3 linked regions of the Homo sapiens genome follow. The protein of the gene in region 1 purifies or fractionates together with the protein of each later gene. This does not show direct contact. Each region holds a gene or a part of one and is shown on either strand. Other genes may lie near its edges. The genes, in order: PRRC2B, ZER1 and PLOD1.

The links.
Region 2: the proteins of PRRC2B (region 1) and ZER1 purify together in Homo sapiens (affinity purification with mass spectrometry; 2 studies listed by BioGRID and IntAct, with this or other methods). This does not show direct contact.
Region 3: the proteins of PRRC2B (region 1) and PLOD1 purify together in Homo sapiens (affinity purification with mass spectrometry; 2 studies listed by BioGRID and IntAct, with this or other methods). This does not show direct contact.

The regions. Positions count from the first base shown.
Region 1 is NC_000009.12:131,388,965-131,399,825, forward strand, and holds the start of PRRC2B (protein PRRC2B), read left to right. Parts: upstream 1-5,121; 5' UTR 5,122-5,299; intron 5,300-10,861.
Region 2 is NC_000009.12:128,759,876-128,770,897, forward strand, and holds part of ZER1 (protein zer-1 homolog), read right to left. Parts: intron 1-11,022. UniProt on the Homo sapiens protein: Serves as substrate adapter subunit in the E3 ubiquitin ligase complex ZYG11B-CUL2-Elongin BC. Acts to target substrates bearing N-terminal degrons for proteasomal degradation with the first four residues of substrates being the key recognition elements.
Region 3 is NC_000001.11:11,970,468-11,977,810, reverse strand, and holds the end of PLOD1 (procollagen-lysine,2-oxoglutarate 5-dioxygenase 1 isoform 2 precursor), read right to left. Parts: intron 7,142-7,343; coding exon 6,995-7,141; intron 4,940-6,994; coding exon 4,814-4,939; intron 3,159-4,813; coding exon 3,003-3,158; 3' UTR 2,274-3,002; downstream 1-2,273. UniProt on the Homo sapiens protein: Part of a complex composed of PLOD1, P3H3 and P3H4 that catalyzes hydroxylation of lysine residues in collagen alpha chains and is required for normal assembly and cross-linkling of collagen fibrils.

The sequences.
Region 1 (10,861 bases):
CAAGTAGCTGGGACTACAAGTGCATGCCGCCACTCCTGGCAAATTTTTTGTATTTTAGTAGAGATGGGGGTTTCACCATGTTGCCCAGGCTGGTCTCGAACTCCTGAGCTCAGGCAATCCACCCACCTTGGCCTCCCAAAGTGCTGGGATTACAGGTGTGAGCCACTGCGCCTGGCTCCTTTCAATTTTTTTTTTTTTTTTTTTTGAGACAGAGTTTCGCTCTTGTTGCCCAAGCGGGAATGCAGTGCTGGGATCACGGCTTACCACAACCTCCGCTTCCCTGGTGAATCAAGCGATTCTCCTGCCTCAGCCTCCCAAGTAACTGGGATTACAGGCATGCGCCACCATGCCTGGCTCAGTTTTTGTATTTTTAGTAGAGATGGGGTTTCTCCATGTTGGTCAGGCTGGTCTCACACTCCCAACCTCAGGCAATCCGCCCACCTTGGCCTCCCAAAGTGCTAGGATCACATGCATGAGCCACTGTGCCTGGCTGGGCAAGTCACTGAACTTTCTGATGCTCTATTTTCTCGACTGTTAAGTGCAGGTATTCAAAACACCAGGTATGTTTTCTTCCTCTGACACCTTGCTGGATGCTTTGTCCCCATAGTGGTGACAGTAGGGGAAGGGAGGCTGGGCACCCACCTCCAGGCTTGCTGAGGTTTGGAGGCTTTAGTGCATGTGCTTATTTGGCTGGTTTTGTGAGCCGTGTGTTTTGTGTGGTTGGTCAGGAGCCATGATTTTGGCCTCAGTTGTCCAGGCATCCACTTTTCAACCACCATGGAGATTGAGTGCTTACTTTGTGCCAAGCTCTCTTCTCTGCTTGGGGATCCCAGCTGGAGAGACACCACAGTGCTCCCCACCCAATTTTCGCAGGTAGAAACTCTTAGGCACCAAAAGGCTAGCTCTGCTGGTTGGAGACAGAACCAGAACTAAAACCTCGGAACATGGTTGTTTTTTTTTTTGTTTTTTTTTTTTTTGAGATGGAGTCCTGTTTTGTCGCCAAGCTGGAGTGCAGTGGCGATCTTGGCTCACTGCAACCTCCAACTCTTGGGTTCAAGCGATTCTCCTGCCTCAGCCTCCCGAGCGATTACAGGTGCCCGCCACCACGCCTGGCTAGTTTTTGTATTTTTGGTAGAGACAGGGTTTCACCGTGTTGGCCAGGATGGTCTTGATCTCCTGACCTCGTGGTCCTCCCGCCTTGGCTTCCCAAAGTGCTGGGATTACAGGCGTGAGCCACTGCGTCTGGCCTGTGTTTGTTTTATTGACTGTAGTGGCCCTTCTCTGCCCAGTTCAACAGCATGGCCCCAGAGCCTGGCACAGTGAGCACCAGAGTGCAGGTGCCCAGTGAATGAACGGACGAACTTTGATTCCCAGGGCTCTCCTCTGGGCTAAGCACTTTGCAGGGATGGATGACTGCATGCCATTCTCTCCATGAGGATGGTCAGGGAGGTAGGAGATGGCTGAGCTGGATTTGAAGCCAGGTCTCTTCTCTCCCAAGACTCCTAGCTTGCCTTTTTTTTTTTTTTTTTTTTTTTTGAGACAGAGTCTTGCTCTGTCGCCCAGGCTGGAGTGCAGTGGTGTGATCTCAGCTCAGTGCAAGCTCTGCCTCCCAGGTTCATGCCATTGTCCTGCCTCAGCCTCCCGAGTAGCTGGGACTATAGGCGCCCGCCACCACGCCTGGCTAATTTTTTGTATTTTTAGTAGAGATGGGGTTTCACCATGTTAGCCAGGATGGTCTCGATCTCTTGACCTCGTGACCCACCTGCCTCGGCCTCCCAAAGTGCTGGGATTACAGGCGTGAGCCACTGTGCCCTAGCTTTTTTTTTTTTTTTTTTTTTTTGATACAGAGTCTCGCTCTGTCGCCCAGGCTATAGTGCAATGGTGCAATCTCGGCTCACTGCAACCTCCACCTCCCAGGTTCAAGCAGTTCTCCTGCCTCAGCTTCTTGAGTAGCTGGGATTACAGGCACATACCACCAGGCCTGGCTAATTTTTGTATTTTTAGTAGAGACAGGGTTTCACCATGTTGGTCAGGCTGGTCTCGAACGCCTGACCAAGTGATCTGCCCACCTCAGCCTCCCAAAGTCCTGGGATTACAGGCTTGAGCCACTGTGTCTGGCCCTAGCTTGCCTTTTAACCCTTCCCTCGCTGTGTTGCCTTCAGCAAGTCTCCAAGGTTGTACTAGTTTTCTATTGCTACATTACCACACATTTAGTGGCTTATGTAACTTTGTTATCTTAAAGTTCTGGAGGTCACGGTGGTTGGCAGGGCTCATTTTCTTCTGGAGGCTTTAGGGGAGAATCCATTCCTTGTCCTTTGTAGCTTCTAGAGGCAGCCTGCATTTCTGGGCGTGAGGTCCTGCGTCATTCCTTTGTCAGTCAATATGATGAACTCCGCTTCATCAACCACATCTTCTCCGACTCCGACCCTCCTTCCTTCCTCTTGTGAGGACCCTTGTGATTCCACCTGCCCAACCAAATAATCCAGGATTCATCTCTGCATCTCAAGATCCTTAACTTCATCCCATCTACAGAATCCCTTTTGCCAGAGAAGGTACCATTTTCACAGATTTCAGGGATCAGGACTTGGACATCTTTGGTGGGGGGCATTGTATTGCCTCCACAAAGTCTACTTTTCTTCTCTGTTGGATGGGCACACTAGTGTCTGTTTTATGGGTATGTCGTGAGGATTACCTGAGTGACTCTATAGGGAGTGTTTAGCACAGTGGCTGTCACATAGTAAGTGCTCAGTAAACCACCCTGTTACTGTTCAGCCTCCTCCTATCATTTTGTTTTGAGACAGAGTCTCTCTCTGTTGCCCAGGCTGGAGTGAAGTGGCGTGCTCTTGGCTCACTGCAACCTCCACCTCCTGGGTTCAAGTGATTCTTGTGCCTCAGCCTCCCGAGTAGCTGGGATTACAGGACCCCACCACCATGCCCGGCTAATTTTTGTATTTTTAGTAGAGACGGGGTTTCACCATGTTGGCCAGACTGGTCTCAAACTCCTGACCTCAGGTGATCTGCCTGCCTCGGCCTCCCAAAGTGGTGGGATTACAGGGGTGAGCCACCACGCTTGGCCTTACAAATAAAGAATCTGAGGCTTCAGATAGTTTATTTCTTTTTTGCTTGTTTATTTTCTTTCTTTTTTTTTTTTTGAGATGGAGTCTCACTCTGTCACCCAGGCTGGAGTGCAGTGGCATGATCTCGGCTCAGTGCAACCTCCGCCACCCGGGTTTGAGCAATTCTTCTGCCTCAGCCTCCCAAGTAGCTGGGATTACAGGCGACTGCCACCATGCCTGGCTAATTTTTGTATTTTTAGTAGAGATGGGGTTTCACCATATTGGTCAGGCTGGTCTTGAACTCCTGACCGCATGATCCACCTGCCTCGACCTACCAAAGTGGTGGGATTACAGGTGTTAGCCACTGCGCCAGCCTTACAGATGAAGAACCTGAGGCTCAGTTTATTTATTTAATTTATTTTTTATTTGTTTATTTGCCTTCTATCATTTTTATTAGTTGCTGGGTTTTGAGCACTGGGCCAATTCTATGGCCTTCCTGAAGATGGTCAAGGAACAAAATCGAAAACAAAAATTAGGGTTACATCCTCCCTGTTTTGTAGAGATAGCGAAATATTGAAGACATTGGCAGGGGAATAATGCAGATTTGATGATGTAAAACAGAGTGGCCGGCACTGTAATCCCAACACTTTGGGAGGCCAAGGTAGGTGGATCACTTTAGCGCAGGAGTTCCAGACCAACTTGGCCAACATGGTGAAATCCCATCTCTACCAAAAATACAAAAATTAGCTGGGCATGGTGGCAGATGTCTGTAATCCCAGCTACTCAGGAGGCTGGGGCAGGAGAATCGCTTGAATCTAGGAGTTGGAGGTTGCAGTGAGCAGAGATTGCGGATTGTGCCACTGCACTCCAGCCTGGGGGACAGAGCGAGACTGTCTCAAAAAAAAAAAAAAAGAAAAAAGAAAAAAAGGATAACACTGAAAATGACCATGGATAAAATGTAGGAAAATTCAGAGAATTATAAATAAGGCTATAAAAGTATCCAGAATTCTACTCCCCAAAAACTAAGCTTTGTTCACCAGCCTCAGTTCTGGAGTTAGGCTGAAGTGGGTTAATTTTCCTTCTGGGTCCAGCAGTGTGGCCTGGGGCACATTCTCTCAAAGCCTCCTTTGTCTCACCTGTGAATTAGAACAATAATATCTGCCCCTGGGTTAGGATTAAGTGAGACAAACCACGTGCTTTAGCATAGGGCATGGCCCGCAGCTGGTGCTTAGAGCAACCGTGACTGGAAGAGGGTGGGATGATTTGGGTGCCAGGCCCTAACATTTTTTTTTTGTATTTGCTTTTTGAAATTGCTTTTATAGTTGGTTAGGTGTCTAAAAAAGTAAGAACCCTCCTCCGCTCTCCCAACCTCAAACCACGGAGGTAACCAAGACAGGAGTGCAGTCTCCCGGACCTTTTGTTTTGCAATCACACAAACACACAACACTCAAGAGGAGGGGCTTATTAGTTTTCATTTTGTAAAAATGGGACAAAGTACCCATATTGTGCAACAACCTTGCTTTTGAAATGAAAAAAGTATTATTTCTGCTTCCTTTCCGTTCATATACCGTATACATATTTTAACAAAATCCGGGCTTAGTCTGTTCTGAGGCGCTGCAGTTTTGAAGGGGGAGGGGGCGGAGATCCGGGCTCGCTCCCCCGTCACTGCCCCCTCCATCCCTTCCCCCTCTTTCCGGGCGCCCTTCCCCCGGGCCCAGGCCGGGCCCATGCCCTTCCCAGGCCCCTTCTCTTGGCTCCTGGCCCCTCCTCCGGGTCTCCTCCCCGATCCCCGCTCTGCCCCGTTCTCTCCCGCCTCTCCCGCCGTCCCCGGGCCCCTCCCCACTCCCAGCCCCCTCCCAGCCCCCTCCCGCCGCTCCCCGCCCCTCCCCCCTGGCCCCAGCCCTCGCCCGGCCCCCGGGCCGATCCCAAGGCCGCCGCTCCCGGGAGGCGCGGCAGGGGGCGCTGCGCGGGCCCAGGTTGCGGGCGGCGGCGGGAGGAGGAGGACGAGGAGGCGGGGGCGGCGGCAGGCGGGGGGCGGGGAGCCGAGCGCGAGGGAGCGAGCGGCGAGACAGGCGCCGAGGCTCCACCGCGCAGCGACGAGCGAGCCCGGGAGGAGGGAGGGAGCGAGCGAGCGAGCAGCCCGCGCCGCCGCCTCGCAATCCGCCGCCATCCCGCCGCCCCCGTGCCCGACCGCCGCCCGACTGCCATCGCCCGGCCCGGCCGCGCCCGCGGAACCAGACCAGGTGGGTCGGGGCCGGGGCCGGGGCCGGGGCGTGGGGGCGGCGGCGCTAAGATGGAGGCGGCGCGGCCCGGCCGGGCTTTGTCTCCCGCGGCCGCCGCCGGGGGCCCGGGGGCCCTGCGGCCCTGCCCGACCTTTGTCCGCGAGCGCGGCCGCCGCCGCCTCCTTCCCGCCGGGCGCGGGGCTGCGGGGCTGGGAGGCCGCGGGGCCTGGGGGCGGCGGGCCCGGGCGCGCTCGCCATTGTTGTGGCGGCGCCGCGCGGCCTCAGGCTCGGGCGGGGTCCAGGGGCCGCGCGACTCCCTCAGGGCTCGCCCGCCACCCCCGTACCCCCGAGGCCGGGCCGGGCTGCAGAGGCCGGAGGGGCGGGGGTCCCGGGCCCGCAGCCGGGTCTCGGGGTTCTGGGGCCGGCGTCTTTGCTCCCCGCCCCGCCCAATTGACGGAGCAGCGCGCCCGAGGCGGGATCCTGCGGGGTCGGGCCTTGGGTCCGGGGCGCTGAGCGGCGTTCGCGGGGCCGTTCCTGGCGCGGGGTGGGCCGGGCCCCGGCGGCGCTAAAGTTGGCGGCTGGGGGAGGGAGGCGAGCGGCCGCCCAGTCTCGGTGTGAGTGCGGGAACCAGAGGGTTATTTTCGAAATGCTGAATGCTCCATGCTAAAAATGTTTAATAATAAACAGGATGTCGCCACTCGGGGCCTGCCAGATGGGGTTTTTTTTTTTTTCCTCCTCTTTTGCCTCCCCTCAACCCCCAGGAGAGAAATTCAGCCCTGTTGAAACTGTGGGCCTCTGAAGAGTGGATTTGCCTTAAGAGGTGGATTTTTTTCCTTTTTCTTTTTTCCTCCTTCTAAATATCGTGGGAGGTCGGAGCCCACCTTTAGGCAAGAATTGGAGGTGTTTTCAGTGGTGAGCTTGAAGGAAGTGGGAGAAGGGGGGCTGGGGAGTGTCTTTTGCTAAATGGCTTCCTGGGAGAAATCTTTAAATGCCTTTGGTTTACAGGACTGTTAAACTTTCCCTAAGATTTTTTTTTTCTTTAAGGTTTAGTGTGCATTTGATGTGGCTTTGTACAGTGTCATCCAGTTTGGTTTTTGTAACCAATTGTGTGCGGTCTTAGCATGGTTTTTCCGAATCTCGCTGCAGCCATTTAGTCATGTCTATGCACAGCGCTGTGGTGTAAGGTGGGACTGGGGAGGCCCAGGCATTGGGGTGCAGATCCTGCTTCTTTCTTCCGTAAACCTAGTGACTCTGGGGCTGTCTGAGGCTTCATCTGCATAAATCGGGGCGTGCACCCTCCACCTGGCAGGTTTGGGCAGCGGTGAAGGGCCTAGCAGAGGGCCTGGCACAGTTAGTGGTTCCTCCTACGGTTGTTGGTATAACTGCTGTCAAGTCCTAGGACAGACGTGAGCCCCTTGTGGTGCCACCCATAGAGCCAAACTGTGCCCATGGATGCCACAGGTGCTGGCCTAAGGCATGGACAATACAGAAGGAATTCAAGGCCCAAACATTAGTGGGCGCTTATACAGTGCTGAGCCTCTCGGGAGGCAGGGATGGGAAAAAGTAGCATTTGGAGGTCTCTAGAACTTAGTAGACCCGGAGTGTGTGGCAGTTGGTCAGTTTAAGGCAGGGTTAGAACAGTACGAGATGCTCAGGACAAACAGACGCCCAAGGAGTCCTGCCTTCTGAGGATAACTGCTTTCCTTGGGGATTGGCAGATAATCATCTGAGAGTGAGTTTCTACTTGTTTGGGCAAGTGTGTCTCTTGGAGCCTGCGCAGCTGGATTCTGGTCCTCATCGGGTTACCTTTACAAAGCAAGTCTCTGAGGCTCAGATCTTGCATCTGTAAAATGGGAATAATTATGCCTGCCTTGGGTATCTATTAGGGCTCTTGGGAGCCTCACTTAAGATTCACAGTGAATTGTTTTCTCTCCATAGGAAGGTGATGAAATGTATGTGTTTGTTGATTATCTGTTTTTCTGGTTCCTTTCTCCTTCCTTCCTCCCTTGCCCTCTTCCTCTCTCCCTCCCTCCCTTTCCCTTCCTTTTCCTTCCTTCCCTTCCTTCTTTTTTCTTTTCTTTTCTTTTTTTTTTTTTTTTTTTTGAGACAGTCTCACTCTGTCGCCCAGGCTGGAGTGCAGTGATGTGATCTCAGCTCACTGCAACCTCCGCCTCCTGGGTTCAAGCGATTCTCGTGCCTCAGCCTCTGGAGTAGCTGGGATTACAGGCATGTGCCACCACACCTGGCCAATTTTTGTGTTTTTAGTAGAGACAGGGTTTCACCATGTTGGCCAGGCTAGTCTCAGACATCCGACTTCAGGTGATTTGCCTGCCTTGGCCTCCCAAAGTGCTGGGATTACAGGCCTGAGCTACCGCGCCCGGTCTTCTTTCTCTTAATGCTTATTTTTTCCTCTTCTCTTGGTTGATGGAACTGTGACTTCCCCACCCCAAATTCTATGGCCGGCTAATGTTTTGCTATGGTGACTATCACCCATCTACCTGGAAGCACCAGAATGGCTTAGTACAGCTAGGGAGCTCAGCCAGATCTCGGTGTCTGCTGTTTGAGATTGTGTGGAAGGACTATTGCTAAGAAGCAGGAGACAGACTGAACCCAGTGTTGGCCACAAGTGAGGACTGAGACCCAGGTCACCTCTTGGCTGAACATGTTAGCTTGTTGGTAAATGGCTCTGCAGTGGTTCTGCATTTTATTGGGGAATTTGTTTTGGTTCATTTTGGCATTCCCGCAACCATCTTGTTGGTTTTTTGGTAAAATGTGGCACCCCCTCCAGACCTCCTAGCTGTGGAACTGAGATATTTTAGCAGGGTCCTGTCATCCTTTGATTTTTCCTCGCTTCCTGCCTCTTGGCCCTTCCTTTTTGTCTGACTTCACTCGGGCCCAGTCTGGCTCTATACTGTTAACTGGTTAGTTAGGCCAGGAGATAGTCGCTGCCTCTCCCATGAGCTTCTGCATACCTGTGAATTTTGGTTATCTGTGGCCCCCTAATGCTGATTGCATGCCCTTGCCTTAGGCCCTAAGCCCACTGTGTGGGCGTCCCATCTCGTACAGTGGCCGTCTCCAGCCTCCACTGGGCCCAAATAGGTAAAAAGAAAGCCTGGGGAAGGAAGAGCCAGGAAACCTCGGGAGAGTGGAATTTCAGGAATGGCAGGTCAGAACTGGTTCCAGCATGGGTCCCTTTGCCTTGTGCTTAGCTGAGGGATTTTTGTTATTAATTTTTTTTTTCCTGTTCAACACTCCTAACCTCTTTTGAATTTCAGTTCTCTTTTTTTATCCTGAAGGATTATTTTATTGTACTTTTGAGGGTTTTTTTTTTTTTTTTTTTTTGCCTTGCACAAAGTACTGACTCATGTTGCTAATGGCTGTGGCTGTATGCTAGTTATATGTCTCATTATCCTACCCCTTAAGATTGATCATTTCTGTGTTGGTTTCTATTTCAAACCAGAATAGGCCAGGTGGGTCAATTCATGTATTTCTGAATTCAATAATGAGGCTTCCCTACCGTGAAATGTACATATCTTGTCATGGGCGGACAGGTACTAAATAGAGCCTATCTATACTAGATTTTAAAACAATGGATTTCTCCCCAAAAAACAACATTTCCAGCAGACAATGGGCTTTGTGCTCCAAATCTTGTAATTTTGGTTTTAAATAAATTTCATGTAAGGAGGCAGGGCTAACTAGACTGTCTTCTTTTCAGATCATAACTTGATCTCTTTTTAAGATTATTTCTGGGACTTGTACAGCCTCAGGAAACTTGGGTCTGTCATTGGGACAAAGAAATACAGGCACTGGCTGTGGTGTTGGAGATGGGAGCGACATGGGATATGGTGAGCTTTGTTTCTGGTGAAATAGAATTGTTTGTCATTAGCTTTAGGTTTAAAAGGTGCCATTCAGACTGGACCTCCTCACCTGGGAGCTGGCAGACCTGGGCCTTGCCATTGGCGATATTACTGTTTATACCTCTGGGTGGCACGTGGGAAATCTCTTTTGTGCTGGGAGGTAGGTTTGTCTTAGTGTCTTGAGCCAGAAGTTGTGGTTGAGCTTTGTTCTCAGCTGTACTTGTTGGTTTTCTGTGTGACCTGAGAAGCATCCTTCGTCCGAGCTGAAGTGCACCTCCGAGGTGCTGGCAGCAGCACTGATTTGTGAAGCATTGCGTGCAGCAGGAGTAGCTGGCAGAACAAAGCCTATCTCAAGTTGCTGGCGGTCTTTCACATCTTGTACAGGACTTCCTTCCGTTCTTACCTCTGCAGCCAGTTGTGTGGCTTCCGTCTGGACCGTCTTCCTCCTTTCCAAGATAACCATCAGTCTTTTTCTCTGTGGGGCTGCAGCAGCAGTATTTATTGCATTTTTAATTGACTTGTCAGGCAATAGATACTCCTTGAGCACCTATCATTTGCCAGGCATTGTACAAGGCCCTTTAAATACATTTTTCTTGTGGTAGGGCAAGGTGGCTCATGCCTGTAATCCCAGTACTTGGGGAGGCCAAGGCAGGTGGATTGCTTGAGGCCAGGTTAAGACCAGCCTGGGCAATGTGATGAAAATAAAAAAATGCCTCTTAAAAGAAAAAATTAGTAGGGTATAGTGGCGCATGCCTGTAGTTCTAACTACTTGGGAGGCTGAAGCAGGAGGATCACTTGAGCTTGGGAGGTTGAGGTTGCAGTGAGCCGTGATCATGCCACTGCACTCTAGCCTGGGCGACAGAGTGAGACCCTGTCTCAAAAGAATAAAAAGTAGGTCGGGCACGGTGGCTCACGCCTGTAATCCAAGCACTTTGGCAGGCCGAGGTGGGCGGATCACCTGAGGTCAGGAATTCAAGACCAGCCTGGCCAACATGGTGAAACCCCGTCTCTGCTAAAAATACAAAAATTAGCTGGATGCCGTGGCGAGTGCCTGTAGTCCCAGCTACTCAGGAGGGGTGAGGCTGGAGAATCACTTAAACCTGGGAGGTGGAGGTTGCAGTGAGCCGAGATTGTGCCACTGCATTCCAGCCTGGGAGACAGAGTGAAATTCTGTCTCAAAAAAAAAAAAAAAAAAAAAGTCTGGGCACGGTGGCTCACACCTATAATCCCAGCATTTTGGGAGGCTGAGGTGGGCGGATCACGAGGTCAGGAGATCGAGACCATCCTGGCTAACACGATGAAACCCCGTGTCTACTAAAAATACAAAAAATTAGCCGGGCGTGGTGGCGGGCGCCTGTAGTCCCAGATACTCAGGAGGCTGAGGCAGGAGAATGGCATGAACCCGGGAGGCGGAGTTTGCAGTGAGCCGAGATCACGACACTGCACTCTAGCCTGGGCCACAGAGCGAGACTCCATCTGAAAAAAAAGGAAAATACTGAAAAGAATAAATGCCAAAATAAATATATAAATCACTTGTGACCTCACCATCCAGAGCTAACTGCAGTAAAGTTGCTGGTGTGTTTCTTTCCTCTGATAATGTCTGTGTTTTCTAAATTAGAGCAATAGTATATATACATTGAATACACAGTTGATAGCTTGCTTTTCCCCTTTTAATGTTATAGTGTATTCCTCTACGTTATTTTTATAATTATATAATTGCTATTAT
Region 2 (11,022 bases), 2.6 Mb from region 1:
GTTTGGTTGGTTGTTTTTTTCTGAGACAGAGTCTCATACTGTTGCCCAGGCTGGAGTGTGGTGGTATGATCACGGCTCACCGCAGCCTTGACCTCCTGGGCTCAAGCGATCCTCCCACCTCAGCCTGTTGAGTAGCTGGGACCACAGGCATGTGCCACCACGCCCAGTAAATTTTTTAATTTTTAGTAAAGACAGGGTCTTTCTGTGTTGCCCAGGTTGGTCTCGAACTCCTGGGCTCAAGCGATCCTCCCATCTTGGCCTTCCAAAATGCTGGGATTGCAGGCGTGAGCCACTGTGCCTGGTCTCTCATGTATGTTATACTTCATAAAAGTTTTTTATTTTTTTGAGACGGAGTCTTGTTCTGTCACCCAGGCTGGAGTGCAGTGGGGCAATCTCAGCTCACTGCAACCTCTGCCTCCCAGGTTCAAGCGATTCTCCTGCCCCAGCCTCCCGAGTAGCTGAGACTACAGGCGTGTGCCACCACGCCCGGCTAATATTTTGTATTTTTGGTAGAGATGGGGTTTAACCGTGTTAGCCAGGATGGTCTCAATCTCCTGACCTTGTGATCCGCCTGCCTCGGCCTCCCAAAGTGCTGGGATTACAGGCGTGAGCCACCGCACCCAGCCCCAAAAGTTTTCTTTTAAGTGCAGGCTCTGTGGTCAGACAGATCTATGTTTTGACCCAGTTATACAATTCACTGTAAAATTACTTAACCTCTCCATTGAGGCCAACATAGTGAAACCCCGTCTCTACCAAAATACAAAAAAAAAAGCTGGGTGTTGTGGTGCACACCTGTAATCCCAGCTACTCAAGAGGCTGAGGGAGGAGAATCACTTGAACCTGGGAGGCGGAGGTTGCAGCGAGCCAAGATTGCGCCACTGCACTCCAGCCTGGTGACACTGCACTCCAGCCTGGCGACACAGCGAGACTCCGTTTAAAAAAAAAAAAAGTTACTTAACCTCTCCAGACCTCAGTTTCCTCATCTGAAAAATGGGGATAATAGGCCAGGCGCGGTGGCTCACGCCTGTAATCCCAGCACTTTGGGAGGCCGAGGCAGGCGAATCATGAGGTCAGGAGATCAAGACCATCCTGGCTAACACAGTGAAACCTGTCTCTACTAAAAATACAAAAAATTAGCTGGGCGTGGTGGTGGGCACCTATAGTCCCAGCTACTCGGGAGGCTGAGGTAGAAGAATGGTGTGAACCCGGGAGGCGGAGCTTGCAGTGAGCCGAGATCGCGCCACTGCACTCCAGCCTGGGCGACAGAGCCAGACTCTGTCTCAAAAAAAAAAAAAAAGGGAGGGGGGGATAATAATCTCTACTTCACAGGGCTGTGGTACTAAATGAGATAATGTTGAAGAAATGCTTAGTCCCAGCCCAACAGACTAAGTACACAACATGGTGGTTATGACCCCACCTTTTTTTTCTTTTTTCAGAGTCTTGCTCTGTCACCCAGGCTGGAGTGCAGCGGCACCATCTCAGCTCACTGCAACCTCTGCTTTCCAGGTTCAAGTTATTCTCCTGCCTCAGCTTCCTGAGTACCTGGGACTACAGGCACCTGCCCCTACACCCGGCTAATTTTTGTATTTTTAGTAGAGACGGGGTTTTGCTATGTTAGCCAGGCTGGTCTCGAACTCCTGAGCTCAGGTGATCCACCCGCCTCGCCTCCCAAAATGGTGGAACTACAGTCATGAGCCACCATGTCCAGCCCTATGACCCCATAATTTGTTTTTTTTTTTTTTTTTTTGAGACAGAGTCTCACTCTGTCACCCAGGCTGGAATACAGTGGTACGATCTCGGCTCACTGCAAGCTCCGCCTCCTGGGTTCATGCCATTCTCTTGCCTCAGCCTCCCAAGTAGCTGGGACTACAGGCGCCTGCGACCACGCTCGGCTAATTTTTTGTATTTTTAGTAGAGATGGGGTTTCACCATGTTAGCCAGGATGGTCTCGAACTCCTGACCTTGTGATCCGCCCGCCTCAGCCTCCCAAAATGTTGGGATTACAGGCGTGAGCCACCGCGCCCGGCTGACCCCATCTTATAGAGGAGGAAACTCAAGGTCAAACAGAGGGAGCTGTGTAAACTAGACTGGAACCTGGTCTCGTGGAATCCCTCACATCTCTTAGAGCAAGCTTGTCCAACCTGTGGTCCATGGGCTGCATGTGGCCCAGGACAGCTTTGAATGCAGCCCAACACAAATTTGTAAACTTTCTTAAAACATTATGACATTTATGGACTTTTTTTTTTTTTTAGCTCATCTGCTGTTGTTAGTGTTGGTGTATTTTACGTGTCGCCCAAGACAGTTCCTTTTCCAGTGTGGCCCAGGGAAGCTAAAAGATTGGACACCCCTGACTTAGAGGGTTCTGGAGTTCTGGGGCCCAGCATTGTCCCAGCTTCTGGGAGCCTCCCTCTGTGCCCATTTGTAAACCTTCCAGACTGCTCAGGAAATCCAGCGGGAAGCCACAGGGCACACTGGGCTTTGGAATCAGCCAGTTCTGAGTTCAACTGTGGCACCACTGTCTACTGGGGACTGTGTGTGGATGGGCTGTGGATTCAGGCAGGCATAGCTCACATTTCAGCCTTGCTGCTCACGAGGAGACAAACTTGGGCAAGTGTCTCCACCTCTCTGTGCCTCAGTCACTTTTCCTCTAAAATAGAAGCAGCACAATACCTCATCCCCAGCACGGTGTGAAGATTCCATGGAATAATATCAAAAGGGCTTAGAACGGTGTCTGGCATGTAGTCATTGCTCAATAAAGACAACCGTTATTATGTTGTTGTTATAATCATTACCTTCTCCTACCTCATCTGCCCTGGCTCCCAGCTCCGGGCCTGTGCTCCCCGGCCTGGGTCTCCCACAACAAGGCTCATTGTGTCAGCTGTCCCACTGGCAGCATGGCACCCTCGAGGGAAGGCACAAAAGCCAGGATGCCTGGGCCCCGGGCATGGCCTTCCTTTGCCTTCATTTGCTTCAAGATCTTTAAGAGCCCAGCAGCCTCTCTTGCCTGGGAAACTGGAACCAGAGGGAGCACTGCTGGCAGAGAGTCCCCACTCTTGGAAAGCAACTCTTTTCAAGCCCACCGGAATTACAGCCAGCTTTCTGGCCTACTTGGTCCCCACTGCCCCCCTACTCCAGCCAGCCTGGCCTCATCATTCACTGTCCTGGCAAAAGGCCCTCGGCACAGGTCACCTTCAGACCTTTGCCCAGTCTGTTCTCTTTCAACCAGGACCATCCAAATTCAACTAATTACTGCACTTTCTAATTTAAATACTGCCTTCTCCCCTCCCCTACCCAAATACACTCCATGTCCTTCCTCCAGGAAGTATCTCCTGGCCACTCCAGCCCACATGATCTTTGAACTCTCCTTTCACGTAGCTGATACCTATGGTCCCAGTGTCAAAGTTACTTCCTCTGGGAAGCCATGCTTAACCCACCAGGGTGTGCCTGCTGAGTCCCCCCACAGGCCCGATCTACCACAGCAATGAACACTTGGTACGATGTGGCTTTGATGATTCAGCATCCTTGATGGATGGCCAGGTCCATGAGGGCAAAACCAGGCTGTCTTGTTTGGTATCACCTCCCTGGACCTGCTCACTCAGTCCCTGCTGAGCACTGGGGGTCCTTGGTGAGCGAGCCGGACAAGGTCCTTGACCACATGGAGCGTACTGGCTCCGGAGGGAGACAGATCCACCTACAGGGCCCATAAGCGCCTGTCGCGTAACTGGGACCAGTGTCTTGCAGGAGAAGGGGCCTGGGGCTCTGGATGCCCAATCAGGGGACTTGCCCTGGACTGGGGAGTCAGAGCAGGTATCCTTAGAAGTGACATTTCAGGCCAGGTGCAGTGGCTCACACCTGTAATCCCAAAACTTTGGGAGACTGAGGTAGGTGGATCACCTGAGGTCAGGAGTTCGAGACCAGCCTGGCCAACATGGTGAAACTCCGTCTCTACTAAAAATACAAAAATAAGCTGGGCTGGTGGCGCACGCCTGTAATCCCAGCTACTCGGGAGGCTGAGGCAGGAGAATTGCTTGAACCCGGGAGGCGGAGGTTGCAGTGAGCCAAGATCACACCATTGCACTCTAGCCTGGGCAATAAGAGCAAAACTCCATCAAAAAAAAAAAAAGAAGTGACATTTCAGCTGGGACCCAAAAGATAAGTCCTAGTTAACTCTGGTGGAGGGGAGAGAAGGGGAAGGCGCTTTGGGAGGAAGCAAAGAAGTACCTAAGCTGCAAGGAGAGGGGGTGCATGGGACGTTGGCACTACGGGCCCAGGTCCATGACTATTTGCTAAATGAACAAAGGAAGCACTGAACACTCAATGTGGGGCCTGCCACAAGGTGAGGTTTCAACAAAGGCCTGTGGAAGGAATGACAAAGTACTCGCCATCAGAGGTCTGCACGAGGCCTGGGAGGTATAGTACACTCTCGCATTCTCCCTGCTTGCTGCACTCAGGACACTGCTGGGCGCCCAGTGGCTGCAAATGATGCCTCTTGGCTCGGAGGCTCTGAATGAGGGAGAGCCACTGGGGTTTTGCCTTTTCTGCAGGTCTGAGCCCAGTTACCTAGGCAGCTGCTCTGCCCTTACCATGCTCCCCAAGTGGAAGAAACACCACCACGTCAGTTGTCACGGTCACCAAAAGCCCCCAAAACATAAGCCAGGTAGATGGCGCCATCTGCTAGCCTCCCCTTAGCAGTGTTGACCTTGCCACTCAGGGCTGGAATGAGCTGGAAGAGGAAGCAGCCATCTTACATCCTGGCACAGAGACTGAAGGGCCCCGGGGCTACCATGCCCTGAGACCCATCCAGCTGCGGGCCTGGCACCTGCCAGAGGCAGCCATCTCTACCTACTCCACTCTACCTACTCCATTCCTTAGGGATTGTCATTCTCAGGGCAGTCACAGGCCATCTGGAATTCCAGCAACTGAGGACAGAGGGAGCTCTGGTTATGACCGACCACCACACTGGGAGAACCCTGTGTCTTTCTCCATCCCTTTTCTTGCATGTTCTCTAATACTAGGTCTATCATGAACATTCGACATCCTGGGGAATGAAGGAAGTGGGAGAGAAGAGAGAGAAAAACAGCACCAGCAGCAGCAGCAGCAGAAGGCACCGCCATACCACGTCCATGTTGGCTGCTTCCAGATGTGGTCCTAAGCTCCTTACAGGCTTTACTCCCTCGAGTCTCTTACTCAACCGACAAAATATTTCCTAGTACCCTGTACTTGCAACTAATTAATCATTTACATAACAATTTGTCAACTGACACCCTCCTACTGCCTGTGAGCTCTGGGAGGACAGAAGCTGTATGCTTGCTTGCATGCCTGCATCCATGCACATGTACACACACACACACACACACACACACACACACACACACGTGCGCAAGCGCGCACGCACCTGTATCCTTGGTGTCTGACTTCGGTGCCCAATTTATGCCTGGTGTTTAATAGAACAAAGGTTTGCTGTGGCTGGAATTCCCTTACTCTAGTACTGCAAGATAGAGATTATTACCCCATTTTCTGATGAAGATACTGACGCATACACAACTAAGCAGAAGCTTGCCTGAGATCACAAAACTGATGAGAGTGGGATGCAAACCTAAAGCAGACCCCCGCTTCTCACCAAATATTTGGTCTTCAGTCCATCCATCCAAACAATGGGAGGGAAAGAGAAACTGAAGTCTGGAGGTGGGAGCATGGGATCCCACCAGTGTCCTGATACCCAGAGGACAGAGAGGTTGGGGGAGCCAGAAGCTCTGAGCCTTGGAGCAGTACTCACCCTGTGAAATATTAACCTAGGAGCTGGGGGGAAAACCCAAACAAATGCCCTATTTACAGAGGCTAGACGCTTTCCAGGAGGCAGCAGATCAAGGGCCAGAGACTGGGGGTGTGAGGGGAGTCACAGCAAGTGTGGGGATCTCCAGGTGGTCGGGAAACAGGTGAAAACCAGACGCCACCTGGCTCTGAAAAGTCTGCAGAGATTAAATCTATGAGTTGGGTTATGTCAGAAAGATGCAGACACACAATAATTGGGGAGTGTGCCTCACAGCTAGGTGGCTGCTCATGATGCTGGAGACAGAGAGGCCTTGAGGAGGCTGCATTCGGCTAGTAATCAGACTGGTTGGGTTCTATTCTTGTAACCAAATGTATTAATGATCCTACCCATACTGAATACCAAGTATATACCAAGAATTCTGGCTGGGCGTGGAGGCTCACGCCTCTAATCCCAGCACTTTGGGAGGCCAAGGCGGGCGGATCACGAGGTGAAGAGATTGAGACCATCCTGGCCAACATGGTGAAACCCTGTCTCTACTAAAAATACAAAAATTAGCAGGGCGTGGTGGCGGGCGCCTATAGTCCCAGCTACTCAGGAGGCTGAGACAGGAGAATTGCTTGAACCCGGGAGGTGGAGGTTCCAGTGAGCCAAGATTGCACCACTGTACTCCAGCCTGGCAACAGAGCAAGATTCCATCTCAAAAAAAAAAAAAAAAAAAGAACTCTGTTAAGTATTTTATATGTGTTAATTAATTGAATTCTCTCAACACCCAACAAGGCAGGAGTTACCATCTACAACTTACAGAAAAGGCAGCTGGAAGGAAGGGGCTATGGCTATGCAATTTGCCAGAGACTATGGATCTGAACAGACAGATATGTACACAGGTAGTTCATTAGTTCAAGACGCAGTGTGTCAGGCTGGGCACAGTGGCCTACGCCTGTAATCCCAGCACTTTGGGAGGCCAAGGCAGGTGGATCACCTGAGGTCAGGAGTTCGAGCCCAGCCTGGCCAACATGGTGAAACTCCATCTCTATTAAAAATACAAAAATTAGCCAGGCATGGTGGCGGATGCCTGTAATCCCAGCTACTTAGGAGGCTGAAGCAGGAGAATCGCTTGAACCTAGGAGGCAGAGGTTGCAGTGAGCCGAGATTGCACCACTGCACTCCTGCCTGGGTGACAGAGCAAGATTCCGTCTCAAAAAAAAAAAAAAAAAAAAAAAGACCCAGTGTGTCCAGCTTTCCAAGCAGTTCGCATCAAAGTCACAGATAACTTATTTATTTATTTATTTATTTTTCTTTCTTTTTTTTTTTGAGATGGAATTTTGCTCTTGTTGCCCAAGCTGGAGTGCAATGGCACAATCTCGGCTCACTGCAGCCTCTGCCTCCTGGGTTCAGGCAATTCTCCTGCCTCAGCCAACCAAGTAGCTGGGATTACAGGTGCCCGCCACCATGCCAGGCTAATTTTTGTATTTTTAGTAGAGACAGGGTTTTGCCATGTTGGCCAGGCTGGTCTCGAACTCCTGACCTCAGGTGATCCACCTGCCTCGGCCTCCCAAAGTGCTGGGATTACAGGTGTGAGCCACTGCGGTCGGCCTATTTATTTATTTTTCTTTTAAGAGACAGGGTCTCACTCTGTCACCCAGGCTGGAGTGCAGTGGTACGATCTCAGCTCGCTGCAACCTCCACCTCTCACGTTCAAGCAATCTCCCACCTCAGCCTCTGGAGTAGCTGTGACTACAGACGTATACCAACAGACCTGGCTAATTTTTTTATTTTTTGTAGCGATGAGGGCTCACCATGTTGCCCAGGCTTGTCTCAAACTCCTGGGCTCAAGCAATACGCCCACCTCAGCCTCCCAAAGTGCTGGATTACAGGTGTGAGCCACCGCACCCAGCTGCCACAGATAACATTTTATCAATATGATAATACATTATCATTTTGTTTCCCAGATAAGGAAACAATGGTTGAAAGATGAGCAATGAGTTGTTCCTCCGGTAAGTGTGTGACCCTAAAGTTCGAGCCCCTTGCCATTATGCTATGGGGAGGGACCATTTCTCCAACCTCAGCTTTCCCTTCTGTTCCACGAGCCTCCGCCGCTTCCTTACAACTCAGGCACTGAGCTCACATGATCCAGTACTGCTGGTAACCACTCCGTGGCATGTCATTTTTTGGCCACAGCATTGAAAGCTTCCTGAGGGCAGGGACCCTATGTGATTTCTGGGGTCTCCATTACAGAGTATGTGAGTGGCTCAATGCCAGTGACAGGGCCTCGGCTCCACAAGATCCCCAGCCAATGTTTTCCAGCCTCAATATTTATCAAGGTCCTTACCTGTCAGCATGTTGCGAGTGGCACACGCTGTGTTGCGCGTGTTGTGAACAGGGTTGCTGAGGAGATGCCATGAAAGGATGGCAGGAAGGTGGTAACCAATAATTATGAAGAGTGATGTTCCTGAGAATAATGCTTCAAGAGACCCTTCTGCATCTCTGAAGCTGGAAAATCAGTTTCAGCGATTGCGCCAGATATAAGACAGTGGTCCACAAATAGATAACCAGACAGGGGTCTCTGCACTCACCTCTCAGGACTCCAGAACAGATGAGGTACTGAAGCCAAGCAAAAAAACCAGAGTGCCAAGAGCAGTCTTCCAGCTAGTGGGCCCCCAAAACGTGTCTGCATAATCCTAGTGGTACTAATGATAATACCTTTGTAGAGAGCTTCAGAACACACCTAATTCTTTCACAAGCTGTGTCTCATTTCATCCTCCCAACAGCCTTTAGAGTTAGTCGGAGGCAAGGGAAGGCCATTATTCTTAATCTACAAATAGGAAAACTGAGGCCCAGAGAGGAGATGGAACCTGCCTAACTCACACAGCAAGCCAACAGCAGAGCCGGGATTTGAACCAGGTCCGCAGGTCACCAGCCTGGGGTTCTACCCACAACAGCCTACCCCAACATGCTGGCTCTCAGCTCCTAAGTGCTCTGACCTTTCATTTTCAAATTCTCTGGCCCAGTTGCCCTGCTCAGCCTGTGTCCCAGGCCTGAGGATATAGTCCGGGCTTGGGGTATAAGGAGGGAGATCAACTGTGGTTCTGCTTCCTATAAAGCAGGCTGGAAAGTCTCAGCCTCTGCCGGGCACTTCCGGATCACCAGCCTCTACCCGTAGATCAGCCACGCACACTCCAACCACATATCTAGGCCCAGCATACACTGCCCCTCCCCACCTGTCTCCAAGTCACATTCATTTCAACACCCTCATTTTGCCTATTTTACGTGGTAGAATGGAAATTTGCTGGGCTCATTTTAATTCTTTTTTTTTTAGAGATAGGGTTTCCCTATGTTCTCCAGACTGGTCTCAAACTCCTGGCCTCAAGCGATCCTCCCAAAGCGCTGGCAGTGCTGGGCTCTTTTTTAAAAGTCCCCATCACCCTCCGCTGCTGTCAGAAAAGCCAGGACCAAGCTAACGTCTTCTCTGCAGAATATTAACCCAGTTACCTCTGAGGGGTGTCAAGAAGTTTCTGTCTTGCTTTCCCCAATATTTCCTCAAATCCTACTAGTTGATGGAGGCAGCTAGAGCTGGTGACACCACCAGCTAGTGCTAAAACGAACGGCTCTGAGGCAGACATACATGCCCACATTCCTCATCATCACATCATCCTCATCAGCGTGACCGCTATGTATTGAGCACTTTGTGTGAAATACTGCATTAAGCACTTCAGCCCATGATTTTATCTAATCCAACAGCCCTATTTTCTTTTCTTTTCTTTCTTTCTTTTTTTTTTTTTGAGATGGAGTTTCGCTCCTGTCGCCCAGGCTGGAGTGCTGCAGTGGCATGATCTCAGCTCACTTCAACCTCCACCTCCCAGGTTCAAGCGATTCTCCTGCCTCAGCCTCTCCAGTAGCTGAGATTACAGGCATGCGTCACCACACCCGGCTAATTTTTGTATTTTTAGTAGAGATGGGGTTTCACCATGTTGGCCAGGCTGGTCTCGAACTCCTGACCTCAGGTGATCCACCTGCCTCCCAAAGTGCTGGGATTACAGGTGTGAGCCACCACACCCAGCCTGCTGTATTTTCCAGATGAGAAGATTGAGGTGGAAAAAGGTCCCGTGCCCACCTTCTCACAACCAGGAAGCAGCGGCATAACTTAACTTGATTTAATCGCAGTTCTCTGTGACCATGATTCTTTGTATTTGTTCCATCAATGGTCATTACAAAGATGGAAGAAGGGTACTTACAACCGAAGCCCCAAGCACAATGGCCATTTGTCATCTAAAACAAATCTGTATTTTCTCCAACCACCAGACACTTCAACAAGTACGGTTCTGAAAGGGTGTCCCATTAGACACCCTGTGACCCTGTATCACAAGGACAGCCCCTGATGTCTTCCCCACCTTTTTCTGGTCCCCACTGTTCTCTGACTTTCTTGCCAACCACTCTTCCCTTTCTTCAACCTGCTCCAGTCCCCCATCCTCCCACTGTTTCTTTCTTTTTTTTGAGACAGAGTCTCACTCTTGTCACCCAGGCTGGAATGCAATGGGCACAATCTCGGCTCACTGCAACCTCCACCTCTCAGGTTCAAATAATTCTCCTGCCTCAGCCTCCTGAGTAACTTGGATTACAGACATGAGCCACCACGGCCAGCTAATTTTTTTTTTGGTACTTTTAGTAGAGATGGGGTTTCACCATGTCGGCCAGGCTGGTCTTGAACTCCTGACCTCAGGTGATCCGGCTGCCTCAGCCTCCCAAAGTGCTGGGATTACAAGCGTGAGCCCTTATGCTGTTTCTTCAAATCACCAGGCATATGACCACAGGACCTTTGCATTTGCTGCGGAATGCTCTGCCACAAGAGAACTACCTGGCTTGCTCCCTCACTTATCTCTGCTCAAAGGTCACCTTACTAGAGACCTTCCCTGAACACCCTCTATAAAATGACAACTCCCAACTCCTTCCCCATGGTCCTTCCTTCTCTATTTTTCTCCAAACCACTTATTACCTCCTTACATATCATGTTTATTATTTGCTGAATGAACAAATGAACCAAAGTAGCGAGGCCCTTCACCCCTGGCCACCACTTTCTGCTCTAAGTATAGCCTCCCGTGACCCTTTTCAAGGCTATGCTTTTATGCTCATCCTAACCAGTTTGAAGTCTGAAGAGAAACATTCTGTGAAAGATCATATATGGAAGGATTTTCCCAAGACATCAGACATTCCATTCCCCTCCCCCTTAAAAATCAAATGCACTAGCTGAGCGC
Region 3 (7,343 bases), on another chromosome or scaffold:
TAACATGTGTTTCTCATTGAGATGGCTGAATCCTCGTTTCAACCCTCGGGATGACAAAACTCTCCTAGCAGTGCTGAGTGTTATTGGGAATGGGTGCAGAGCACACTGATGTACAACTCCAGGAGACCTTTCTTTCTTACGTTTTTGTTTTTTTTTTTAAGACAAGAGTCTTGCTCTCTCACCCAGGCTGGAGTGCAGTGGCACAATCTCAACTCACTACAACCTCTGCCTCCCGGGTTCAAGCGATTCTCGTGCTGCAGCCTCCTGAGTAGTTGGGTTTACAGGCATGTGCCATAAAGCCCACCTTATTTTTGTATTTTTAATAGAGACAGGGTTTTGCCATGTTGGCCATGCTGGTTGAGAATTCCTGGCCTCAAGTGATCCTACCACCTCAGCCTCCCAAAGCGCTGGGATTACAGGCATGAGCCACTGCACCCGGTCCATATTACTTTTTGTTGTTGTTGTTGTTGACAGGTTATTGCTCTGTCACCCACGCTGGAGTGTAGTGGTGCAATCTTGGCTCACTGCAACCTCCACCTCCCAGGTTCAAGTGATTCTCCCAGCTCAGCCTCCCAAGTAGCTGGGATTACAGGCACCTGCCACCACACCTGGCTAATTTTTGTATTTTTTTGTAGAGATGGGGGTTTTGCCATGTTGGCCAGGCTGGTCTCAAACTCTTGACCACAAGTGATCCACCCGCCTCAGCCTCCCAAAGTACTGGGATTACAGATGTGAGCCACAGCATCCGGCCCCCCATGTTACCTATTTTGTTTGACTTTTTCATGGTGAAGATGAGTTTGTAATCAGAAAAAAGTTAACAGTTAAAAACAACCCTATGCCGGGCACAGTGGCTCACACCTGTAATGCCAGCACTTTGGGAGGCCGAGGCAGGTGGATCATCTGAGGTCAGGAGTTGGAGACCACCGTGGCCAACATGGTGAAACCTCATATCTACTAAAAATACAAAAACTAGCTGGGCGTGGTGGCGGGTGCCTGTAATCCCAGCTACTCGGGAAGCTGAGGCACGAGAATTGCTTGAACCCGGGAGGCAGAGGTTGCAGTGAGCCGAGATCATGCCATTGCACTCCAGCCTGGGCGACAGAGTGAGACTCCATCTCAAAAACAAAAACAAAAATAACCCTAACATACACAAACACACACACAGGCTTGTGTCGGCACAAACCAGCTCAAGAACGTTCAAAAAACAGATTAGACATGGTGGCTTTCAGAGAGAGGAACTGAGCAGCTGGGGGGAAAGGATGACAGAAAGATTAAGATTTGTGCTGTTTGAATTTACAATGAGTCAATTTTGAAAATGAAAAGACTAAAAAATCTTTTTTTTTTTTTAATTGAGATGGAGTCTTGCTCTGTCACCCAGACTGGAGTGCAGTGGCCCAATCTTGGCTCATTGCAACCTCCACCACCTGGGTTCAAGCGATTCTCCTGCCTCAGCCTCCCGAGTAGCTGGGATTACAGGCGCATGCCAACACAACCGGCTGATTTTTTCATATTATTAGTAGAGACAGGGTTTCGCCACGTTGCCCAGGCTGGTCTCAAACTCCTGACCTCAGGTAATCCGCCTGCCTCAGCCTAAGTGCTGGGATTACAGGTGTGAGCCACTGTGCCTGGCCTCAAAAATCTTTTTTAAAAGACTTTCAGGCCTGGGATGGTGGCTCACGCCTGTAATCCAGTACTTTGGGAGGCCGAGGCGGATGGATCACCTGAGGTCAGGAGTTCGAGACCAGCCTGGCCAACACGGTGAAATGAAACCCCGTTTCTACAAAAAATACAAAAATGTGTCAGGCATGGATACCTATAATCCCAGCTACTCAGGGGTCGAGAGGCTAGCATGACCTTTCTTAAAGGCTCTAAAAAGAGGGCTCTTGGCCGGGCACGGTGGCTCATGCCTGTAATCCCAGCACTTTGGGAGGCCGAGGTGGGTGGATCATCTGAGGTCAGGAGTTCAAGACCAGCCAGACCAACCTGGTGAAACCCTTTCTTTAATAAAAAAACAAAAATTAGCCAGGCGTGGTGATGGGTGCCTGTAGCCCCAGCTGCTCGGAAGGCTGAGGCAGGAGAATTACTTGAACCCAGGAGGCGGGGGTTGCAGAAAGCGGGGATAGCGTCATTGCACTCCAGCCTGGAAGACAGAGTGAGACTCTGTCTCAAAAAAAGAAAAAAAAAAAAAAAGAGGGCTCTTAAAACCTCTCTCCCTGCAGACACTCACACCAAGACACACACACACCCACTCGCCCTGAGCATCTTCCCTTCAGTGGTTTAAATGACCTTTAATAGAAACTCTCCAGTTTCTGACGGTCTGTCCCTCTCTTCAGAGGCATCCAGGACAGGGTGACCCAGTGTGGTGTGTGGACCTGTCACTCCCCTCCCCACAGGCAAGTAGAAGATCGAGCTGTGCACAGATGCCTCTTCTGTCTCCCAAGAGGTTCTCTGGAGTCGCTGTCTCCAGGGGACTACGGTTTGCTCTCATGACCAGCCATGGAGGCAGAAGTCCCAGACTCAGGGCAGCCCTTGGAGTCTGATCCAGGTGTCTTTACCCCAAAACTTGAAGCAGAAGTCCCTGGTGCAACACCTGTGCCTGGGAGAAGCTCTGGCCATGGCTTCTCACCCAGACAGTCTTTCTGGGCAACTTGGGGAAGCCCCTGTTCTGCTCAAGTCTCACCCCATGGAAGAGGTGGGGGAAGGGGGCCTTGGTTTTTCAGGAAGACAGGTTGGAGAGCACGAGTCACTACAAAGCAGTAAAAGTGAATGGTGTCTCCAGGGGCTGGGTCCAGAACACCACGGAGAGCCCCAGCCATAAAGGTGTGTTCCGCCTCTGGCCTGCAGGAATCTCTTTGAATCTCTTTGATTGGTGGCTCCAAGAGCAATGGGAAGTCAACAGCCAGGAGGCTGGACTGGGTTCCCTGGGACCCCGAGGTCCCAGAGGCTGCTGGGCAGTGGTTGTCGGCAAAGAAGAAAGGTCCAAGAGGGTCAGGCCTGGCCAATTAGGGATCGACGAAGGAGACTGCGATGTAGCGGGTGCCCCTGGTGGTGGGGAGCCCCTCATGGTAATGCGTGAGTCGTCCAGGGTGCATGAGGGTCCAGCCCTTCCTTGGGGCTCGGATGGAACAGTTGTAGCGCAGGAACCGACAGCCCCCGCCCTGGGAGACAGAAAGCATCAGTGGCCTTTCCCCACCGCCCCCCTGCCCGTCTGTTCTCCCGTCATGATCTCCTGTCATGGCCAAGTGGCCCTCAGCACTGCCTGCCTGGGGATGCCTTCTGGAGTGACAGCCACAAGCGCTGCTAAGGAAGACACTAAATGAAGAGTAGTGGCCAGGAGTGGTGGCTCACGCCTGTAATCCCAGCACTTTGGCAGGCCAAGGCGGGTGGACCACCTGAGGTCAGGAGTTCAAGACCAGCATGGCCAACATGGTGAGACCCCATCTCTACTAAAAATACAAAAACCAGCTGGGTGTAGCAGCGCACGCCTGTAATCCCAGCTATTCGGGAAGCTGAGACAGAATCACTTGAACCCAGGAGGCAGTGAGCCGAGATCGCGCCACTGTACTCCAGCCTGGGCAACAGAATGAGACTGTCTCAAAAAAAAAAAAACCCAAAGAGTAAGTGATCAAGAGCTCTGTCCTTGGAGTCAGGCAGCCCTGGGCAGACATCACCTCCACTCTTTACTAACTGTGACCAACCTGAGCTTCAGTTTCCCCTTCTGTAAAATGAGGGTTAAACAGAACAGGATAGTGAGAATTAAATGAGATGTTACAATTGAGAGCTGAGGATCAAGCTTCCCAACCTCACCACTATAGACACTTTGCTGTGGAAGGCTGTCCCGGGCATCTCTGACTTCTACCCACTAGATGCCAGTAGCCCCTCATAGTTGTAAAAACCAATTATGTCTCCAGGTACTGCCAATGTCCCTTGCAGGCCACAGTTGCTCCTGGTTGAGAATCCTTGGATTAGGGATGCCTGATATGTTTGTTGTAAGCTCTCAAAAAATTATAGCTCCAGCCTGGGCAACATAGTGAAACCCCATCTCTAAAAGCAAGAAAAAAAATTAGCTGGCCATGGTGGCACACGCCTGTGGTCCCAACTACTTGGGGGGGCTGAGGTGGGAGGATTGCTTGGGCCCAGGAGGTTGAGGCTGCAGTGAACTGTGATCATGCCACTACACTCCAGCCTGGGTGACAGAGCAAGACCCTGTCTCGAAAAAGAAAAAAAAAAGGATTATAGCTGTTTTTATGAGTGTTCTCCACAGCACCCAGCCCAGGGCTAAGTTCAAAAAACCTCTTTTTGTTTTTTTTGGAGACAGAGTCTCGCTCTGTTGCCCAGGCTGGAGTGCAGTGGCATGATCTCAGCTCACTGCAACCTCCACCTCTTGGGTTCAAGAGATTCTCATGCCTCAGCCTTCTGGGTAGCTAAGATTACAGGTGTGTGCTACCACGCCCAGCTAATTTTTCTATTTTTAGTGGAAATGGGGTTTCGCCATGTTGGCCAGGCTGGTCTCAAACTCCTGGCCCCAAGTGATCTGCCTGCCTTGGCCTCCCAAACTGCTGGGATTGCAGGCATCAGCCACCATGCCGAGCCCAAAAATCTCTTAAAATAGTAGCTTAAGAGCCTGGCCCCTCCTCCTGCTAGACTGTGAACCCTTCCAGGAAGCCCTCCCACAGACCCACATCCTTTTTTTTCTGGTTCTCTGGCACTGGTTACCTGGGGCCCCTCTGCCTCAACCACCCTGAAGCCTCTCCTCAGCTAGCCCTCCTCATCCCCATTGCCGGCCCCTTGACCCCGGCTGGCTCCTGCTCACCTCGTAATCCACCCCGACTCGGTTCAGGGCGATGTTGATGGTGAAGGTGGAGGCATCATGGTGTGGCATCAGTGAGGGCTGCTCATCAGGCTTGTAGCGGACGACAAAGGCCAGGTCAAACTGGGCCTGTACCAAGGCAGGGGGACAAGAGAGCCCGTGTTAGTTAAGGAGGACACAAAGGCCAGGAGAGGAGGGTGCACACATGGGGCCTGGTCTGGCCTGCTGCAGGTCAGCTTACAGGGGCCAGGTCTACATGGGGCTCTATGCTCGAGTGCCTGCAACTACCTGGCACAGAAAAGGTTCTCAACAAAAATGTATGGACAGAGGGGAGAGAGGGAGGGAAGGAAGAGAACAGAGGGGAAGGAAGAAAGGAAGGGAGGGAGGGAGGAAGGGAGGAAAAGGGAAGAGAAGAAATGAAAGGGAAGAGAAGAAATGAAAGGGAAGGAGGCCGGACATGGTACTCACGCCTGTAATTCCAGCACTTTGGGAGGCCAAGGTGGGCGGATCACCTGAGGTCAGGAGTTTGAGACCAGCCTGGCCAACATGGTGAAACCCCATCTCTACTGAAATTACAAAAAATTAGCCAGACATGGTGGTGGGCGTCTGTAATCGCAGCTACTTGGGAGGCTGAGGCCGGAGAATCGCTTGAATCTGGGAGGCGGAGATTGTAGTGAGCCAAGATTGCGCCACTGCACTCCAGCCTGGGTGACAAGTGCGAAAGAAAAGAAAGAAAAAGAGACAGAGAAAGAGAAAGAGAGAGAGAAAGAAAGAGAGAGAGAGAGAGAGAGGAAGGAAGGAAGGAAGGGAAGAAAGGAACGAAGGAATGAATGAAAAGACAAAGACAAAGGGGGGCATCCAATCCTCACAACCCTTTCTGGCAACTATCCAGGCTGGATTCCCTGAGGCAGGACCCAGGCACGCCATGGGCAGGTATCTGGAGAAACCAGAGACCAAGGAAGGAACTGAGTCTTGGAGAAAGTACCTTGGAGAAAGCCAAGGTAGCAGTGGACAGACACATGAGTGATAGCACTGGAAAGAATTGTGAGAATTAACCGAGGCCAGCCAGGTAATTGTTTCCGGGGAACCACAGTAAGCATTCAAGGGATGAATGACAACTGTCAGTAACAGGAGTTCAGGGTTTTCCTCACTATTGGAAGAAGGCTGCTTCGGACGAAGCAGGGCCCAGGCGTGGGGCACAGGCTTGTGGCTAGGGAGGGAGTGGGCACGCTGGCCAGCTAAGGTGGGCAGGGGTGCTTTTTTGGTGGGCTGGTATAGGAGCCACTGAGGCAGGGTTAATGACAAGGAAGAAAGATTCAAAAGAGCTGAGGTCGGCCAGGCACGGTGGCTCATGCCTGTAATCCCAGCACTTTTGGAGGCAGAGGTGGGCGGATTACTTGAGGTCAGGAATTTGAGACCAGCCTGGCCAACATGGTGAAACCCTGTCTCTACAAAAAATACAAAAATTAGCCAGGCATGGTGGCAGGTGCCTGTAATCCCAGCTACTCATGAGGCTGAGTGAGACTCCAGCTCAGGCTAGAGGCCAACTAGCCGGCCCTAGAGTCCCAGCCCAGCACCCTGTCTTCCCACACGCTACTAGATGGAGGGGGTGTGTGCGGTGAGACCTCACTCCTGCCTGGGGACCAAATATCCAGGCCTCTCCCATAAGCTGGGATGTTCCTCCACCCGTACTCCAACCCAACCCCTTCCCCAGCCCCTCCCCTTGCCAGACTCTCCAGCCCCCACCCACCCCTGGCCCTTCCACCCAAGCCCCCCACTCCACCCTACCCCTCCCACCCCATCCCCCTGCCCCACACTGGCCTCGACCTCCCCACCAACTCCTGCCCCTTCCAGTCTCTCCACTCCCTCACCCCTGCCCCCCCGCCCCTCTAGGCTTTCCACTCCCACTCACCCCTGCCCCTCCCAGGCTCCCTACTCCTCTCCACCCCTCCCAGCTTCTCTACCACTTCCCACCCCACCCCTGCTCTTCCCAACCCCATCCCCACCCCTCAGTCCCTCTACCTCATGCCCCACCCTTGCCCCTCCCACGCTCCCCACACCCTCACTCCACCTCGGCCCCTCCCAGTTTCTCCACCTCCCACCCTACCCCCACCAGTCCCAGCCACTCCACTGACACCCCACCCAACTGTCCCCGCATCCTGGCTATGCCCCAGGCTTGCCCACCCTGGTGTAGTAGCCGGGGTAGAGCTTCTCCGTCATGGGCGCAATGTACTCCAGCAGGAATTTGTGCCACTCCCGCTCAAAGCCGATCTGGTTCATGTGGATGTCAATAGTCGGCACGTTCTCGTAGCCACCCTGGATGCGGTTGTCCTGGAGGTGACCGAGGTGAATGTTTAGGCAGAATTCTAGGATGGCCCCCAGGCTCTGTCTACTCCCCTCTCCTACACCCGGGAATGTGACCGGACCACATTACATGACAAAACTGAACAGGCTTTGCAGATACAATTAAGGCTCCTAATCAGTTGACTTTGGGTTAATCAAAAGGGAGATTATCCTGGGGGGGCCTGACCTA